Linked DNA regions of Homo sapiens. The protein of the gene in region 1 purifies or fractionates together with the protein of each later gene. This does not show direct contact. Each region holds a gene or a part of one and is shown in the gene's direction. Other genes may lie near its edges. The genes, in order: ASAP1, ARHGEF2, P4HA2 and EXOC6B.

Region 1 (4,451 bases):
TCCTTCCAGCTTTCCCAGGCTAAATCTGGAAAGTTCAATCCACACGTCCACGTAGAATATGAGTGGAATCTTCGACAGGAGGAGATAGATGAGAGCGATGATGATCTGGATGACAAAGTGAGTGTAAATTATGTCCTCGAATTCTCAACAACTACCCCAACTTTTCTAGTCTGTGTAGACAAGATCCATTTTTGGTGAGATTGATTGATTGTGGTTTTATGATCCAATGTATCAGGGCCATTTATGTTGTTCAGTCCTTATTGGGCACCATTTAACAGCTATATTAAGGTTGTCCAGAGAAACAGAGCCAACAGGATAGGGAGAGAGACAGAGAAATTTTTTTTAAGGAATTGGCTCACATGATTGAAGGAGCTGTCAAGTTCAAAATGCACAGGGCAGGCCAGCAGGCTGGAAATCCCAGCAGGAGTTAATGTTGCAGTCTTCAGGCTAAAGACAGTCTGGAGGCAGCATTCCTTACCCTTTGGGGGACCTCAGTCTTTTTAAGGCCTTTCTTTGGCTGATTAGGTGAGGCACACCCACATCATGAAGGGTAGTTCCCTTGACTCGAAATCTACTCATTTAAATGGTAATTGCATCTAAAAAATTCCTTTACAGCAACATCTAGACTAGTATTTGACCAAACACCAGGACACTGTAGCCTGTTGACACATAAAATTAACCATGAAGCTAGGCATGGTGGCTCATGCCTATAATCCCAGCGCTTTGGGAGGCCAAGGCAGAACTATCGCTTGAGACCAGGAATTCGAGAGCAACCTAAGCAAAATGGTGAGACCCTGTCTCTACAAAGTAAATGGATCAATCAATAAAACGTGGTGGTGCTATTTGACAAGCTGAGGCAGGAGGATTGCTTGAGCCCAGGAGTTTGAGGCTGCAGTGAGCTATGATTGTACTACTGCACTCTTGACCTGAATGACAGAGCAAGACCCTATATCTTAAAAAAAAAAAAAAAAAAAATTAACCTTCAAAACAAGTAATTAGTAAGTAAATAACAGTTGTTATTTATTGAACATAATCATGCACTGTATAATAACATTTCAGTCCACAACACACTGCATACTCAATGGGGATCAATATAAGATTAAAACGGAGCTGAAAAATAGCCATCACCTAGTGATGCCATAGATGTCATAATACGGTAGTGCAACACATTCCTCAAATGGTTGTGGGATGCTGGTATAAACCAACCTACTGCACTGAGTTGTATAAAAATGTACAGTAATGTCCTAGGCCTTCACTCACACCCAGAGCAGCTTCCAGTCCTTCCAGCTCCATTTATGGAAAGTGTCCTACATAGATGTACCATTTTTTAATCTTATATAACATGTTTTTATTTTACCTCTTCTATGTTTAGATACACAAGTAATTACCATTGTGTTACAGTTGTTTACAATGTTTAGTATAGTAGCATGCTGTACAGGTTTGTAGCCTGGGAGCAATAGGCTATACCATATAGCCTAGGTGTGTAGTAGGCTCTCCCATCTAGGTTTGTGTAAGTATACTCTATGATGTTCGCACAAGAACGAAATCACCTAACACATTTCTCAGAATGTATGCCTGTCATTAAGGAATGATGTTCATTAAATATGGATTAGACAGATTTAAGCACTTACGTTATCTCAGATCATCTTTATTGAAAGTCCATAACTGAGTGCTGTGGCTCACACCTGTAATCCCAGCACTTTGGGAGGGTGAGACGGGTGGATGCCTTGAGCCCAGAAGCTTGAGACCAGCCTGGGCAACATGGCGAAACCCTCTCTCTACAAAAAATACAAAAATTAGCTGGCCGTGGTGGTGTGCGCCTGTGGTCCCAGCTGCCCGGGAGGCAGAGGTGGGAGAATCACCTGAGCCCAGGAACTCAAGGCTGTGATGAGCCAAGATTGTCCCATTGCACTCCAGCCTGGGTGTGGGTGTCTGAGTGAGACCCTGTCTCAGAGGAAAAAAAAAAAAAAGTACATAAGGGACATTGTTATCCCCATTTTACAGAAGAGAAAACTTACAAAGAGAATTTAGCAACTTGTCTAAAGTCTCCCAGCTAGTAAAGACAGTTTGGAGGATTAAACCCAGTTCTCACTGAGTTTTCCTTATAAGCAGTTAACTACCTCTGAAAGTTCATTCATGCATTAATTGATTGCCTATGTATTGGACATTTCCTGTATCACAGGCAGGATGTAAGGAATGGCCAAAGAGGTCCTCAAGCCTTAACAACTTTAAGAGGAAATAAATTATAATACAATGTGATAATCATTATAAGAGTATGGAAAAATTCCTGAGAGCTATTCAGAGGACCAAGCAGCTGCCTCAGTCTGCCTTCTCAAGGACATTGGAGATGGGTTTCTAAGGATAGGTGGAAGCTTGCCAGGGAAAGAAGTGGGGTGGAATGCATCATTCCAGAACACCACGTGCCAAGGGAAGGAGTCATGGTAGAGTCTGGATGTCGGAGGAATGGAGAGAAGCACTGTGTGTGAGATGCATTCACCTGGCTGGGTGGGGAGAGGCAGGCAGCTGCCTTGTAGAGTCAGGCAAACCAGATCAGGATGGCTTTGTGGGCAAGGTTTGGCCTTTGGGTTTTTGTGCAAGCAGTCAGAAGCCCACAGAGGTTTATTGTCTAAAGAGCAAGGTTTCCCACCAGCTCTGGCTGCAGTGTGGAGAATGGACTGGAGGAAGGAAACTGGAGAAGGGGCCATTCTGGAGGCTAGAGCTGCAGTGGGAGCTGGTGAGCACCTGTACTAGGAGGGGCTTCAAGGGATATTTCCAAGGGGAATGCAGGAACCAGGGACTCCAGGTGACACTGAGGTTTCTAACCTGGGCAGTTGAGTGGATCCTAATGCCATCACCACAAGCGCAAATACCAGAGATACCTCATGGGCCATTGGTTTGGAACACAAGTCACTGGGGTTGTATTTACAGATCTGTAAGTAATTATTGTGTAGCGGGCAGTGGGTGTGAATCCGTTTACTTTGCAGGGGGATATAAAATGAGAAAAGAGGCAAAGAAAGAACTTCAACGTTAAAGGGTTGAGCAGGGAACAAAACTTAATGTAGCAAATTAGAAATAGGTGGAAATACTATTCAAATGTTGCTGAAAAAGTCCTGCATTCTGAAGGTGTTTGCTTATTAAAAGTTAAATCTACCTGTGACCTTACTGTGCTTCTGACACTGCTGCTGATCCTAACCAGTGTTTCACTAGTGTGATTATTCATAGTGGTGAACGATATGAAAGTGTGGTATCTAGATCCTTCCCTTGTACTGTGTCAGCATCATGAGGCTCATTGTGGCTGACCTCATAAAGCTCAGAGAGCCACAGGAACCCAGATTCCCACCTGAGCCCGCCCTGCGGAGGCCCTCTGTACACATGAAGGGTGGTCCTTGATTATTATCTCACCTTCTTATTTCATCTGCCAGCCAAGCCCTATCAAGAAAGAGCGCTCACCCAGACCTCAGAGCTTCTGCCACTCCTCCAGCATCTCCCCCCAGGACAAGCTGGCACTGCCAGGATTCAGCACTCCAAGGGACAAACAGCGGCTCTCCTATGGAGCCTTCACCAACCAGATCTTCGTTTCCACAAGCACAGACTCGCCCACATCACCAACCACGGAGGCTCCCCCTCTGCCTCCTAGGAACGCCGGGAAAGGTATGGGCTTTGAGAAGGGCTTGTGACTCCATCCTCGAAGGGCTTGTGACTCCATCCTCAGAGCTGATAGTCTAGCCAGCTTTGAGGTAAGAATTGCAAGGTACATTTGAGTGGCGCGGATCGTGTTGTCAGGAGCAGCTTGAAATAGGGACCATGCCATTTGCCAGGTACCAAGAGCAGGACAGGCAGTGCTGTGGGCTCTCTTTGTGCATTATTTGTGTTAACCTTACAACAATCCTGTGAAGTATGTGCTTTTGTGCCCATTTTACAGAAGAGGAAACTAAGGCTCAATGAGATACACTGACCAGCCCAAGGTCACACCACTGGTAAGAGGTAAAGTTGAGATTCAATCTGAGGTCCACGTGGCTCCAGAACCTGTACTTTTTATAATGTGGAGTGGAGTTTCAGTTCTCTGGAAAGTTACTTTTCTCTACATTAAAATGCCACTCTTTTGAAGACGCTAGTAATAATAGTGGTAGTTAATAGTTATGGAGCACTTGCCTTATGAGAGGCTCTACGCCTAGTACTTCTTTTGTAATCATCTCAAAATGAGGTAGGTGCTATTATGCAGTTACTGGCATCATGTGAATTAGGGGATTTGTTCAGAGATACTGAGTAATTGGCCTGTAGTTCTCAGCCTGGGATTCTAACCCAGGTTCTGTGTGACCAAAGCCCATTCTCTTGTACTCTCTAATAAGGAACATTTTTCCAGAGACAGTACTTGGAGAGGAATTTTTTTTTTCCCTTGAGACAGGCCTTTCTCAGTCGCCTCCATCTCCGGGGCTCAAGTGATCCTGATC
Region 2 (4,451 bases), on another chromosome or scaffold:
GAGGCTTCTGGGGACATAGACAAAAATTCTAGGGGTCGTGGAGGTTAGGGAGAGAGTTGAGGGGGAGGGGAGAAGTGAGGATAGGGGAAGGGAGTCTAAAGCTTAGGGAAGTCACTGAGTGACTTGCAGGAGGTTAGATGGGGCCTAGAGAAGGACCTACTGAGGCCGACCAGAGGAGTTACAGTGGGGTCTGATCTTAGCCACTCTGGCTGTGGAATTTGACCTTGGAATCAAGGAGGGGACAGATGTGAATGTGTGCATCCCCTGTGTGCATGTTACTGGTGTGCTGGTGTGTCAGTGTGTCTGTCTGCCTGCCTGCCCTCCTATTCTGTACCCAGATGCTCTGGGCTACTGTTTTGAACAGTGGTCAGCAAAGTAGGGGGTTCGTGCTCTCTGGCCACGAGGAAGTAGCTTCATCCTTAGCTTCAGTTTCTGGTTGGAAATATCATCTAGGAGCTGAGTGAGCGGATTGGTTAGGATTTCTGAAGCTGGTAAGAGAAAAGGCTGAGAGGAGCTGGCTGGACCCTTCCGGGTTTGTTTATGTCTCTTTGGGAGAGGGTGGGGGTGGGGTTGCAGGCAGCAGCTGCCCCCCTCCCAACCCAGCCGGCCTGCCTTGTGCCAGGAGGGCAGGGAGTCCTGGCACAGCTATTGTTCACTTGCACAAATGCCTGTCTGTTTGCATCGCTTACCCCCCCTCTCTTTCTGCTTGTCTCTCTCTCCTGGCCTGACAGGTGTGGCCGCGTAGGGGGCAGGCTGGGTTCCAGGATGCTTGGGTCTCAGGGTCCCTAACCTGATTTATTCCTTGTGGCCCTTAGCAATCCTCTTCCGTTTCACCCGTACCCACTCCCATTGCCAGTGTCTCATCTTCATTCACTAAGCAAGCATTTATTAAGTGCCTTTGTGTGTGCAGTGATGTCTTTCTGTGTTGTTTCTGGCTTTGGCATTAGTGTTTCCACTTGGCTGCCTTCCCCTCTGCCTCCTGTCTTCATCTTGTCCCTGGAAGCTCATAAAGGAGCAGGGCCCGGCTGAGACCACCCCAAGCCCTCTTCTCAGTCCCACCCCCAGCAATCCCTCACCTCTTCATTTCCCAGCCCTATAGCTCCTCCTCCAGGACTCAGTGCCCTTCATAGCCAACGGCGCCTCTGCTGTACAGGGGCTGAGCCACAGGTGACTCGAATCCTGGTGGAATGCTCCACAGGCTCTCCGGTCACTATTACAGAGGGTGTGGACAGAGGTGTCACCATCTTGGGGAAGGGGCTGCTGCCAGGTACAGCTGGAGGAGAGGTGATTCTGAGTACTCTGTGACTCTCCCAGAAGTCTTGATTTGGACATACCTGAGAGAGAAGCAAAGGCAGCTGAGAGAGCTGGGCACAGTGGCTCGCACCTGTAATCCTAGCATTTTGGAAGACCAAGGCAGCTGGATCGCATGAGCTCAGGAATTTGAGACAAGCCTGGGCAACATAGTGAGACCTCATCTCTACAAAAACATTAAGTTTTTAAAATCTATTATTAAAAAAAAAAAAGTCAGATGAGAGCTTAGGGCTTGCTTGGAGAAGCTCTACCTCGCCTGGGTGGATCTGCCTGGCCTTGCTGCCTGCTGGGAGCCCAGGAAGCCAAAGTCCTAGCCTTGGCATTGCCTTCCCCTCCATGTACGTCACTGTTTCCTCATCCCTTATTCTGGGAGACAAAGTGGAGAGAAGAGGGGAGACTGTGTTTGCCTTTGAGCTTTTCAGTAGAGATCCACAATGCCCTCTGCCATTGCTCCCATCTTTCTTTCTTTTTTCTTTTCTTTTTTTTTTTTTGAGACAGAGTCTCGCTCTGTCACCCAGGCTGGAGTGCAGTGGCATGATCTTGGCTCACTGCAACCTCCACCTCCTGCGTTCAAGCAATTCTCCTGCCTCAGCCTCCTGAGTAGTTGGGATTACAGGTGCCCACCACCATACCCGGCCAATTTTTGTATTTTTAGTAGAGATGGGGTTTTGCCATGTTGGCCAGGCTGGTCTCAAACTCCTGATCTCAAGTGATCTGCCCGCCTCGGCCTCTCAAAGTGTTAGGATTATAGGCATGAGCCACTGCGCTCGGCCTGGCCCTGTCTTTCTTTCCCAAAAGTGACTGAGATCTGGGATGACAGTGGAAGGAAGTTTGGGGTTGGTCTTCTGACTTCCAGAGGAAACCCTCAGGGTCTAAACTCAAAGGAAATAGGAGAGAATGGCTTAGAGCCCTTCAGGAGGAGGGAGAAAAGAGAAACAAGAAGAGACAGAAGGTTCTAAAGCTCTGATAAGGAAGGAAGAGGGTTTCCAGAATAGGGGCCAGGGTGCTACTGAGACCCCATGTCTTGGTGTCCATACATCCTTCCTTGCTTCTTTGCTTCCTTCCTTTTCTTTCATTTTGAGACATGTATTGGGTGCCTATTGTATACCAGGTATTGTGCTAAGGGCTTTCATATTCTTTATTTATCCTTGATGTAGCAGTAGTGTGGATGAAGGTGTGTAGCAAGAAGAACTTCCCATGGGATTTGTGAGAAAGAGACAGAATGACTCTAGGTCTGAGCGTGGTGGCTCACACCTATAATTCTAGCACTTTGGGGAGGCTGGGGCAGGAGGATCACTTGATCCTAGGAGTTCGAGACCAGCCTGGGCAACATAGCAAGACGCTGTCTCTACAAAAAAAATTTAAAAATTAGGTGAGCATCATGATGCATGCCTGTGGTCCCAGCTATTTGGAGGGCTGAGGTGGAAGGATCACTTGAGCCCGGGAGGTCAAGGCTGCGGTGAGCCATGATCATGCCAATGTACTCCAGTCCAGGCAACAGAGTGAGACCCTGTCTCAAAAAAAAAAAGAAAAAAAAAAGTATCTAGATGCTGGAGAGCAAAGGACTGAACCAAGCAGGAAGGGCCTCTGAGCACTGGGGTGGGTGTTATGGATTGTGGAGTAATGGGCCCTTTTTCTTGGTGCATAGGTTGGGTCTTGGAGGTAAAGGGCTGTCCTACTTGGGCGTGGGTAAATGGGAGACCAATGTGATTATCTTAAGAATACCTGGAAAAGAGTAGGACAAAGAACCAAACAAGCCCACTCACTCCACCTCTGGAGCAGGCACCCCTGGTAAGCAGGCCCTATGTCCTTCCATCCTCAGAAGCCTGAGCCCTGGGGCGGGCACAGGCAACCTCCGGGACAATAGCACTAGGCAGTGCCAGGGTCGCTTGCTGCTGGGCAGTGCCCATGCTGGGATGTGCTGCTGCTGTGGCTGCTGCCCGCTGCTGGCCCACCTAGAGCAGGGGTCACTTCGAGAGAGGGTGAGTGTTGGGAGGTGGAGGAGGCAGGGCCCAGAGTACCAGGGCTGTCTGTGGAGCATTGATGCCAGAGAGAGGAAGGGCCACTAGAGACCCTGTTCTCTGGCTGCCCCAGTCTTCTCCCTCCCTTTGCCACTCCATCTGAGCTGGTCAGACAGATGAGTGTTTGTGGATGCCACAGGGGGAGGGTGGAGGGCAAAGGACAGAGGTCAGGTGTGGAAGAGAGTACTCGTAGCAGCACTGGGGCAGAGCTGCAGCACTGCCCATTCTGGAGTGACCCTGGTCCAGCCATGTTGTTTTTTTTAATACTATTTTCAGCTTGCTTGCTTTTACTTATGTGTGTATATATATATATGTATATATTTTTTTTTTTTATAGAGATGGGTCTCGCTGTGTTGCTCAGGTTGTTCTCAAACTCCTGGCCTCAAGCGATCCTCCCACCTCAGCCCCGCAAAGTGCTGGGATTACAGGTGTGAGCCACCTCACCGGCCTCTTGCTTTTAATTCAAATGTAATACATGCTCAAACTTTTGGTTTGAGTTATATAGAAGGCTGGGAGGGCAGGAGAGGAGGAGAAAAGGGAGAGTATATGGCAGTGGGAAGAGATTTTTGGACTTGGTGTTTGAGGTCCTGTGAGGTTATTATTCAAAGGTGAATTTGAACTTCTTTTTTTTTTTTTGAGACATAGTCTCACTCTGTGGCCCAGGCTGGAGTGCAGTGGCCCAATCTCAACCCACCACAACCTCCAACCTCCCCGGTTCAAGCAATTCTCCTGCCTCAGCCTCCCAAGTAGCTGGGATTACAGGTGCCTGCCACTACGCCCAGCTAATTTTTTGTATTTTTAGTAGAGATGGGGTTTCACCATGTTGGTCAGGCTGGTCTCGAACTCCTGACCTCAGGTAATCCACCCGCCTCGACCTCCCAAAGTGCTGGGATTGCAGGTGTGAGCCACTGCACCCAGCCTGAATTTGAACTTCTAAAGAGGTATAATTTGGTGCAAGATAGGTGGAGGTTAGACCAAAGGGAGCATTTTCTAGTGGTCCGGGTAGGTAGGTGCCAGAATAGAAAAAAGGAGGCCAGAACATTTTAGAGGTTTGAGTTAGAGGCTAGAGGCAGCTCAGCTTCCTGAATAAGCCTAGGTAGAGGAGCAGTTGGCCTGCGT
Region 3 (4,451 bases), on another chromosome or scaffold:
CGATGTCATGTCTGATGAGGAAATCGAGAGGATCAAGGAGATCGCAAAACCTAAAGTAGGTGTCACTGTAGGTCCTTCTCGGGTCACTGAAGGGGGAAGGTCCTTTTTCTCATCCCTAGCACTATGGGTGGTTGGTTTGCCCATCTAGCCACCCTTTATCCATATCTAGCATGGGCCTACCGTGGGGATACAGAGATGCTTCAGACTCAGCCTGACCTTGTGAGTTCATGGTCCAGTGGAAGAAGAACAGGGTAACCAATGTGGACAGCCAAGTGCTATCATAGAAGGTCACGCTGGGAACAGGGCAGGTCTACACTGGTGTGTCAGTTCACCTGGTTGGGAGACTGGTGCGTGGGTGAGTTTTTTGGAAATGTTCCATAGGATGCTATGAAGCTGGGTCCTGTGGAGCTCCTGATTAGGACTGTAAATGAGGTGAATGACTTAGAGGAGAATGTATATCTTTATAATATTGGGTCTTCTCATCCAAGGGCATGACAGGTCTCTCCATATCTTTTTAAGTTTTCTTCATATAAGCCTTGAACATTTCTTAAGTTTATTCCTTGGTAGTTTCTTTGTTACTGTTAATTTACTTTATTTCTTCATTATTATTTTTAACTGGTTACATTATTTTATTAGTTTACTATTATATGCCAAACTATTGATTTTACAAATACATTTCATAGTAAGAGCTAATGTTTACTGAATTCTTAACTGTGGCAGGAACTTCTAAGTGCTTAACATATATATTAAGTGTTATGTCACAGTTATGAACAGCTGCTCATAATGATGTCACTGTCTCTGTTTTACCTATGAAAAAGCAAACTCATACAGATTGCAGCTAGTGGTTGAATTTACTTATTTCTTTTTTGGTTTTTAGCTGATTTCTCTTTGGTTGCCTGGATAGCATTAACACCTGGAAATAAGGAAAATTTTATTTTCTCCTGATACTTGTAGTTCCTTTGTTTTTATAACCTTATTGAATTGCCCAGAACTTCTAGAGCATAATTACGTAGAATAGGCATCCTTGTCTCATTCCTGAATTTCCTGGAAATTCCTATGGTATTTTACTGCTAAGAATGCAGTTGGCTGTTGGTTTTGTATATATGCCATGTTTTAAAATTATTCTTCTGTTTCTAGTTCATAAAAGATTTGTTCCCCATTTGACATCTTTCAAAGAGACCTATTTGCTGCCATATCCCATCACTGATGATTGGGAGGGAGGATTTAGCTCGATTCTCTATTGCTCTGCTCCTAATAGAATTGTAGGGGCCGAGGTGACCAGGAGGCCCGACACTCATGGAGAGACCTGAAATAGGTTCCTATCCTGGCCCCTGGACCTCATCTTGGAACAGCTTTGGCTTGAGGTACTAGGACATCTAGGGCTTTGAGTCAGTGGTTGGCATCATCGATGTGGCTGAGGAAGGGGGCTAGCCAGATATATGGAGAATGGGGACTAGGACTCCCCTTTCTACTCAGCTCCAGAGTCCTCCAGGAAAGAAAACTACTTTGTTGGTTGTGCCAGGATTTCCTGAGAGATTTCTTACCCGTTCTTCAGTTCCAGACACTGAGAACATTTCTCTGTGCATGTGTGCATATGTGTACACATGTGTGTGGCTGGCCAGAGGGTAGTGTTAGGAAAAGATATATTTGAATAGAAGCCATGCAAAGAGCCAAACAAGGTTGGCAAACATGTTTGGCTCTTAACATGGCTTCTATTCAAAGATAAGCTGACCCCTCCTTTCCGGAGACTGTGAGGGACAGATGCTATTCTGGCTTTGAAGTAGAGCCAATGAGCTTAACTTGGCCTGTGGGGAATGCCTGGCAGCTGTCTGTGGGGTCTCTGGCCTGCTTTCAAAATAGCCCTGTGCTTCCCCTGGGGCAGAGCACAGCTGCTCAGAGCCTCTTTGTGGGTGTCAGGCCAATGCTGAGGCACAGATGTTTGGATGGGGTCTGGCTGTGGCTGCAGTTTTCAGGGAGGGACTGACATGAGCTGAAGCTCAGGAAGGGCCATGAGTAGGAGCTTGGGAGCCGTCTGTCCTGCTTGTGCTGGCCATCTTACCAGATCATGCCATAGCAGCACAGTGTCCAAGTTGGTCCATCTCACCCCCTTACTAGCCTTCTGGTCCATCTACTCCTCTCCATCCCTTCTGCCACCACCTGGCCCGGGCCACCATCATCTCTTGCCCTGACCTCTGTCGTGGCCTCACTAGCCTCCCAGTCCCCACTCTGGCCCCTCATTAGTCAACTCTCCATGAGGTATTCACAGTGATCCATTTTACATTCACATTTTGAGTGTCCCTCCCCTGCATAAAGCCTTCCCCATTTCTCGTTGGCCACAAGGTTGCATCTAGTTCCTAGCCCCTGCTTGTCTCTTCAGCCTGTTCTCTCTTACTACTTCCCATAACCTTTAATCCACACCTACTGCAACACCCATTTTCATTCCCAGGCCTCTGGATTGCTGCTCTTTCCCTGTTCCTGTAATGTTCCTCTACTTGGATAACTCATGTTAACCCTTCAGGCCTCAGCTAGGTGGTCTCCTCCCCTAGGAAGCTATTCTTGACACTATACCCTGAGCTTCCACAGGATGGTAAGTTCACCCATGCTGTGCTGCAGTTACCTGACTGGTTTTCTGCTTTCCCCACTTGACTGAGTTGTAAGAGTGCAGGGGCCATGTCTCAGTTACCTAGCATAGTGCCAGGCACAAAGTAGGCACTCATCAATATTTATTGAAATCAAGGGGAAGTGTGTTGGGGTGGGAGTACCTGGGCCTATGGCCCCACCCATGTGAGGTCATGAGGACAGTCCACAGCTGAAGCACATGGACCTTTGCCATGTTGGCTGGCTCTGGGCGGCGAGTCCCCCTTGGGGTTTCACTAAGCCTAACTGTGGAGGCTGGGGGAGATGAAGTAGATGCAGGGAGTGCATGTGTAGTGTGTACCTGTATGAGTGGGTGGCTTCCAGGCAGTGGTTCACTTATTTTAACTTACAGAATCTTTTCCTGGTTTTATCATCTGACTTGTAAGGATCCCAAGGGAGCGAAAACTGTGCCATCTGTCTTTGCTTCTTGAGGCTGTGGGAACCCAGTGTGAGGTGGTGCAGCAGGAGAGTGTTTGGATGGGTTTCTTGGCAGAGGAGCCCACTGAGGTTCGGAAGGATGGTGGAACTTGACTCAATTGAGAGAAGTACATAAGGCGGAGGCTCAGGCATGGTGGCACAGTCTGAAAATGGTGGGAGTAGCTAAGCTCAGGCAGGCTGTGCTCAGGCAGGGGTGGTATGTGGGCCTGGCAAGGAAAGGGGCTAGTCAGGCAGATGCATGGGTAGACAAGGCAGGCATAATTCTGCAGGCAAAGCGGACCTGGGGAGGAGAAGGGATGAGCAGTGACCGAGCAGGGCAATAGCCAGGAACTGATTGCGGATTGGGAATGTGGAGGCCTCAGACTCTTGCCCTCAACTGGCCTGCAGGATCTTGGGGCCTTGGCTAGAGCCATTGGCTGCAAAGCTTCCTCCACTAGCATGGCAGTAAATCTGGTCCCAGTGCTCTCTGGGAAAATATTCAAGGCAAAACAAACAAACAAACAAATCAAGTCTTCCCTCTCCTCCTTCCTTCTAGCTTGCACGAGCCACCGTTCGTGATCCCAAGACAGGAGTCCTCACTGTCGCCAGCTACCGGGTTTCCAAAAGGTAAGCAAAGAGCAGGGGTTCGTAGCTGCTCAAGCCCCAACTTCAGGACTTCTCAGTGCCTACCCTAGGGATGGGTGGCTTGCCTTTTCCTGCCTGCTGGCACCTCCTCACCCCCTTGCAGCAGGCATCCTGTACTGCCTGTTCATGCTGGCCCTGACTCTGGGGACAGAGTTCAGGACCTCATGGAAGCCTGCCCTTCCGTCTTCTTTTCTCTGCCCTTTTCTTTTTGCCCAGCTCCTGGCTAGAGGAAGATGATGACCCTGTTGTGGCCCGAGTAAATCGTCGGATGCAGCATATCACAGGGTTAACAGTAAAGACTGCAGAATTGTTACAGGTACAGATAGTACCTGGGACTGTAGGAGTTGGGAAGTGGGTATTTGTGGCTAGATGGTCTCACAGGGTGTCCAGAACTGGGCCAAGAGGCCCAACTGTATGACTACTGCCTGATGCTATGAATATGGAGTGATCTCATTTTAGGAAACCAGAATTAATCATGCCTGCTGGCTTTCAACAATTAGTGTTCAACAAATATCTATTGAGCATCTGCTGTGTGCCCAAGTGTGCTGCAAGCTAGGGATCAGGGGTAGTTATGGTAGGTTCGTTCATGTCTTCTTGACAACAGAAGCTCAAATCCTGAATGGTCTCAGGGACATCTCTAAGAGAGCTAAAAATGACTTCAGAGGCCATGGTTCTGTGTCATAATCAAATACATTTGAAGGTCAAAGTATTCTGTGTGTTTTCTCCTGCTGAACCACAACTGAAGTTGCTCC
Region 4 (4,451 bases), on another chromosome or scaffold:
TTTGATTTGAGAAGTTGGTTGAACCTGCAGATACAGAGGGTCAACTGTATATACATTACGGTTTAAATATAAGTTACCCAGTCTCCCTAAAACTTGTTTCATTGTTGTTACTGAGTTTTTTCACTGAAAAGTGGGGTTTTGTGTAGATAGATGGATTAAGAGGTCTTTTGCCCTAAGGGGACACTGTAAAAAAAAGAAAGTTTGAGACTCATTACCAGTTTTACTTGCTTTTCTTGACTTCCTATATGATTATTATGGGCTCATCATTTTTGATCTCAACTTTTTTTTTTTTTTTTTTTTTAGCAGATTACACTGAGTCTTACTGTCAGACCCAGGGTTCATTCACTTGAATATCCTATAATACAAGGAGTACCCACTGCCTTTGTCTTTAGTCTAGCTGTCCCTACCCATATTCATAGGGGATGATCTCACCTTTTTTCCTTATCCCGTTCAGAGGCAGCAGCATGCACAGACTTGATGTTTCAGATCCCATGCCTTACTTGGGATGTGCCTCTATTGTCATTATCTCCTGTTTTTCATCACTATCATGAAACAGGTTTGATTAAGGCAGTAGCTCTCTTGCCTTAACTACTCTCAGTTGTAAACCTCGAACTTTTCTTCTTCATAGTATGTCTTTCCTCTTTCTTCATCTTTTGAGGTAACATTGTAAAGGCACCAGATTCTTAACTGTTCGTGAGATGGGTTTTCTAGCTGAAGAGAAACTAACGAACACAGAAAGTAAATTGAGAGCAGATATTAGATTAGTATATCCCTAAAATACCTGCTCTTCAAAAAAATCCACTTGGCTGTATTGCCTAACCAGACTCTTTCCTTTGCCAGCTATTATTTGTGTATCATTACTTGCTTTCTTTCTTTGCTATGATACGGATTATTTTTTCCAGTCTTACTCCTTTTTGTTTGAGGAGTCACAGTGGCTTGACTTTTTCATTATATTACTGTTATTACTTTAGTTTTGAGCTGTACATGCAATGTTGGTAGATTCCCATCTATCATAAGGATATACCACCTCTTCTTTTTCATTGTAATTCTGAAAGGCCCAAGCATATCCACACATAAAGAGGGTGTTGCCTAGCAAACTCTTTTGGGAAAGTAGCTATCTCTCTCTTTGTCTTTACCTTAAAAATTATTTTGTTATCTGTGAGTCCTAATTTTGGAAAGAGGCCTGTAAGATGTTAAAGCCTGCCTGTCCTGTTTTTAAAATAATGTTCATTCCTGCTTTGTGTTATAAATACTAAAATTTTGATGACAAATCATTTATGAACAATAGCTCCCTGTTTTCATTTTTCAAATCCCATCCCTATATCTCTACTTTTCCTTTATATCACTTACTCAGTAGAAGTCATTTCTTCACTTGGTACTCTGGGTAATAGCAATTAACATTCAGTCTAATTGTTGTTTAAGATTTTGTTTTCAAACTTAAAATTTAATATTGAAATACATTGCCATTAAAAAACAACTATATTGAGATATAATTCATGTATCATACAATTTACCCATTTAAAGTATACAATTAAATGGTTTTGGGTATGTATATTCGCAGAGTTGTGCAGCAATCACCACAACCTAATTTTAGAAAATTTTCATTACTCAAAAAGAAACCTTGTACCCATTAGTGGTCTCTCCATTCTGTTCCCTCTCTCTCCCTAGGCAATCACTACTTTTCTTCATGGGTTTGGCTGTTCTGGACATCGGGACATTTTGTATAAATGGAATCAAACAATATGGGTTTTTTTGGTAACTGAATGTTTTCAAGGTTCATCTATGTGGTAGCATGTATCAGTACTTAATTTCTTTTTATCGATGAATAATATTCCATTGTGTGGATATACCACATTTTATTTGTTCATCAGTTGATGGACATTTGGGTTGTTTCCATTTTGGGGCTGTGGAACAATGCTGCCATGGCCATTTGTATACTAGTTTTTGTAGAGACATATGTTTTCATTTTTGTTGAGTATGTACCTAGGAGTGGAATTTCTAGGCTGTAAGGTAACTCTATGTTTAACATTATGAGGAACTGCTAGACTGTTTTTCCAAAGTGCATGCGCCATTTTACATTCCTGTAGCAATGTATCAGGGTTCCAATTTTTCCACATCCTTGTCAACACTTGTTATCATCTTTTTTACTTTGCCATCCTTGTGGGTGTGAAGTTGCATTTCATTGTAGTTTTGATTTGCATTCCCGTAATAGCTGTTCTTTTCATGTGCTTATTGGTCATTGTTTATCCCTTTTGGATCCTTTGCCCGTTTTTAAATTGGGTTATTTGCTTTTCTTTTTTTGGTTGAGTTGTAGGAGTTCTCTATGTATTCTGAATATGTCCTGTTATCAGATATATGATTTGTAATACTATATCCTATTCTGTGATTTGTCTTTTCCATTTTTTGATATCTTTCATGTTCTTAGCTTTTGCTGCACAAAAGTTTTTAATTTAAATTAATTCCAGTTATCATTTTTTTTCTTATTTTGTTTCATGCTTTTGATGTTATATTTAGGAAACTTTTGCGTAATGCATGATCATGAAGATTTGCTCCTATATTTTTTCTAAGTGTTATATAATTTTATCTTTTACATTTAGATCTGTGATTCATTTTGAGTTAATTTTTGTTTACAATGTAAGGAGGAGTGTCCAGTTTCATTCTTTAGCATGTGGATATCCAGTTGTTCCAACACCATTTGTTGACTGCTTTTTTTATTTTTTAAAAAACCCAGATTCCTGGTTGATTTATTTTGATCTCCTTATCATGATTTATGTTCCTTATTTGTGGCAGAAATGTAACATTGAAAACCCTGTTATTGAGTTTATGTGATTTTTGCTAGCTAGCCTAACTTCCTTCATTTAGTATTCTCACCCAGGGAAGTTTGCTCTAGTTTTCAGCGAAAGTTTTTCTCTTTTTGGCTCAATTCCTGTATCATAAGAATGATTTGATTCCTATATTTGATCTTGGTAAATAACTTTAGGGACTGATTATTGTCTTCTGGAATTATTTTGTGTCATACTACTCAGTCTTATGTAACATAAAGTATATTAATGATACAGTTACCTTTTTCACTGTTAAAACAGTATGTCAACATATGGAATTTGGAAACTAGATTAAAAATTGCTTACAATTCTATAACACAGCTGCTGTTGTTTTGGTGCTTTTCCTTCTAGAACTTTGCCTTATATATTTTATTATTACAAAGCTTTACTTATGGGTGTAGGAATAATTTTCTGTCTTGCTTTTTTAAGTTGTTTGTTTATAAAGCTAGCTCTTTATAAACAAGAAACAAATTGAGGGGGATATTTTCAAAAGGCTGTTTTATTTAAGGTCATTTGATAAGTGAATATGGGGATGTGGCATCCACTTACTACTTCTGTGCCTTTGACCACATGGCTCTTATTTTTCCATCCAGCACCCTCTCCCATTAATTCATCTTTACAGAGATCAGTTAATCATAATCCTTGGTTCGTGACACTTTCTCATTATAGGTCCATGGCTCTCTTTAATAAATTAAATCAATTTATTTTTATAAGCAACTTACCACCCAAGTGGGCAATTTTTTCTCATCTAAAAAGTGATTAGAAAAATGAAGATAAAGCATCCTTCATGGTACAATGCAAGGTACCAAGCTAGGACTACTGCCTAGCAGGTAGCATGAATGATGCTTTCTCTCTCTCTCTCTCTTTTTTCTTTTCATACTCTTCCTCCAATGTAGATGGGGTGCCATGGTACCTGCTAGGCATTGGTCACTCAAGTGTGAGTCATCTTCCACCTTTACCCTTGGGTTTGCTATGTGGACTTAAGTATTTCTATTTTTTGAGTTTTGTTAGTTTAGTGGTTAGCCTATTTTTTTTGTTTCCTTTTCCTGGTCCCACATATCTAAGGGATATAATACTTATCAATAATCAATCCTGGGAGGGGTTATTTTGGGGTGGAGCAGAGAAAGGAGGAGGAGATAGGAAATAAATATATAAAAGCCCTTCAGGTGATTGTGATATACTCCGTCCTTGACAATCACTGAGGGGAAGAACATTCCCATTGCTCATGCTTATTTTTTAATAGTAGTGCCCTTTTAAAAATGACATTTTTATATTTTAATTATAAATGTAATAGAATGACTTAAGAAGAAACAACAACAAATAACTTAATTCTATTACCTTTCCACCACTTTTATATTTTTATATTTCCTCTTAACTTTTTTATATGCATGTTATTATATTAAATATTAGATGATTATTATGTGTCTTGCTTTTTCAGTTAACATGTTATATACAGGTTTATACATTATAATGATGTCACTTTAGTGGCTTTATTAATGAATTGATTCATTCATATATTCATTCAATATTGAGCAATGTCTATGTGCCAGATACTCTTCCAGGCTCTGGGGTACAGCAGGCAGCAATATAGACAAGTCCCTATCCTTATTGAGCTTATAGAGTCCGGAG

Evidence for each region.
Region 2: the proteins of ASAP1 (region 1) and ARHGEF2 purify together in Homo sapiens (affinity purification with western blotting, with the first as the bait; one study listed by BioGRID). This does not show direct contact.
Region 3: the proteins of ASAP1 (region 1) and P4HA2 purify together in Homo sapiens (co-immunoprecipitation; one large-scale study listed by IntAct). This does not show direct contact.
Region 4: the proteins of ASAP1 (region 1) and EXOC6B fractionate together in Homo sapiens (co-fractionation; one large-scale study listed by BioGRID). This does not show direct contact.

The regions. Positions count from the first base shown.
Region 1 is NC_000008.11:130,111,294-130,115,744, reverse strand, and holds part of ASAP1 (arf-GAP with SH3 domain, ANK repeat and PH domain-containing protein 1), read left to right. Parts: intron 1-9; coding exon 10-117; intron 118-3,422; coding exon 3,423-3,651; intron 3,652-4,451. UniProt on the Homo sapiens protein: Possesses phosphatidylinositol 4,5-bisphosphate-dependent GTPase-activating protein activity for ARF1 (ADP ribosylation factor 1) and ARF5 and a lesser activity towards ARF6.
Region 2 is NC_000001.11:155,971,097-155,975,547, reverse strand, and holds part of ARHGEF2 (rho guanine nucleotide exchange factor 2), read left to right. Parts: intron 1-4,451. UniProt on the Homo sapiens protein: Activates Rho-GTPases by promoting the exchange of GDP for GTP.
Region 3 is NC_000005.10:132,203,312-132,207,762, reverse strand, and holds part of P4HA2 (prolyl 4-hydroxylase subunit alpha-2 isoform 2 precursor), read left to right. Parts: coding exon 1-55; intron 56-3,610; coding exon 3,611-3,681; intron 3,682-3,915; coding exon 3,916-4,015; intron 4,016-4,451. UniProt on the Homo sapiens protein: Catalyzes the post-translational formation of 4-hydroxyproline in -Xaa-Pro-Gly- sequences in collagens and other proteins.
Region 4 is NC_000002.12:72,819,001-72,823,451, reverse strand, and holds part of EXOC6B (exocyst complex component 6B), read left to right. Parts: intron 1-4,451. UniProt on the Homo sapiens protein: Component of the exocyst complex involved in the docking of exocytic vesicles with fusion sites on the plasma membrane.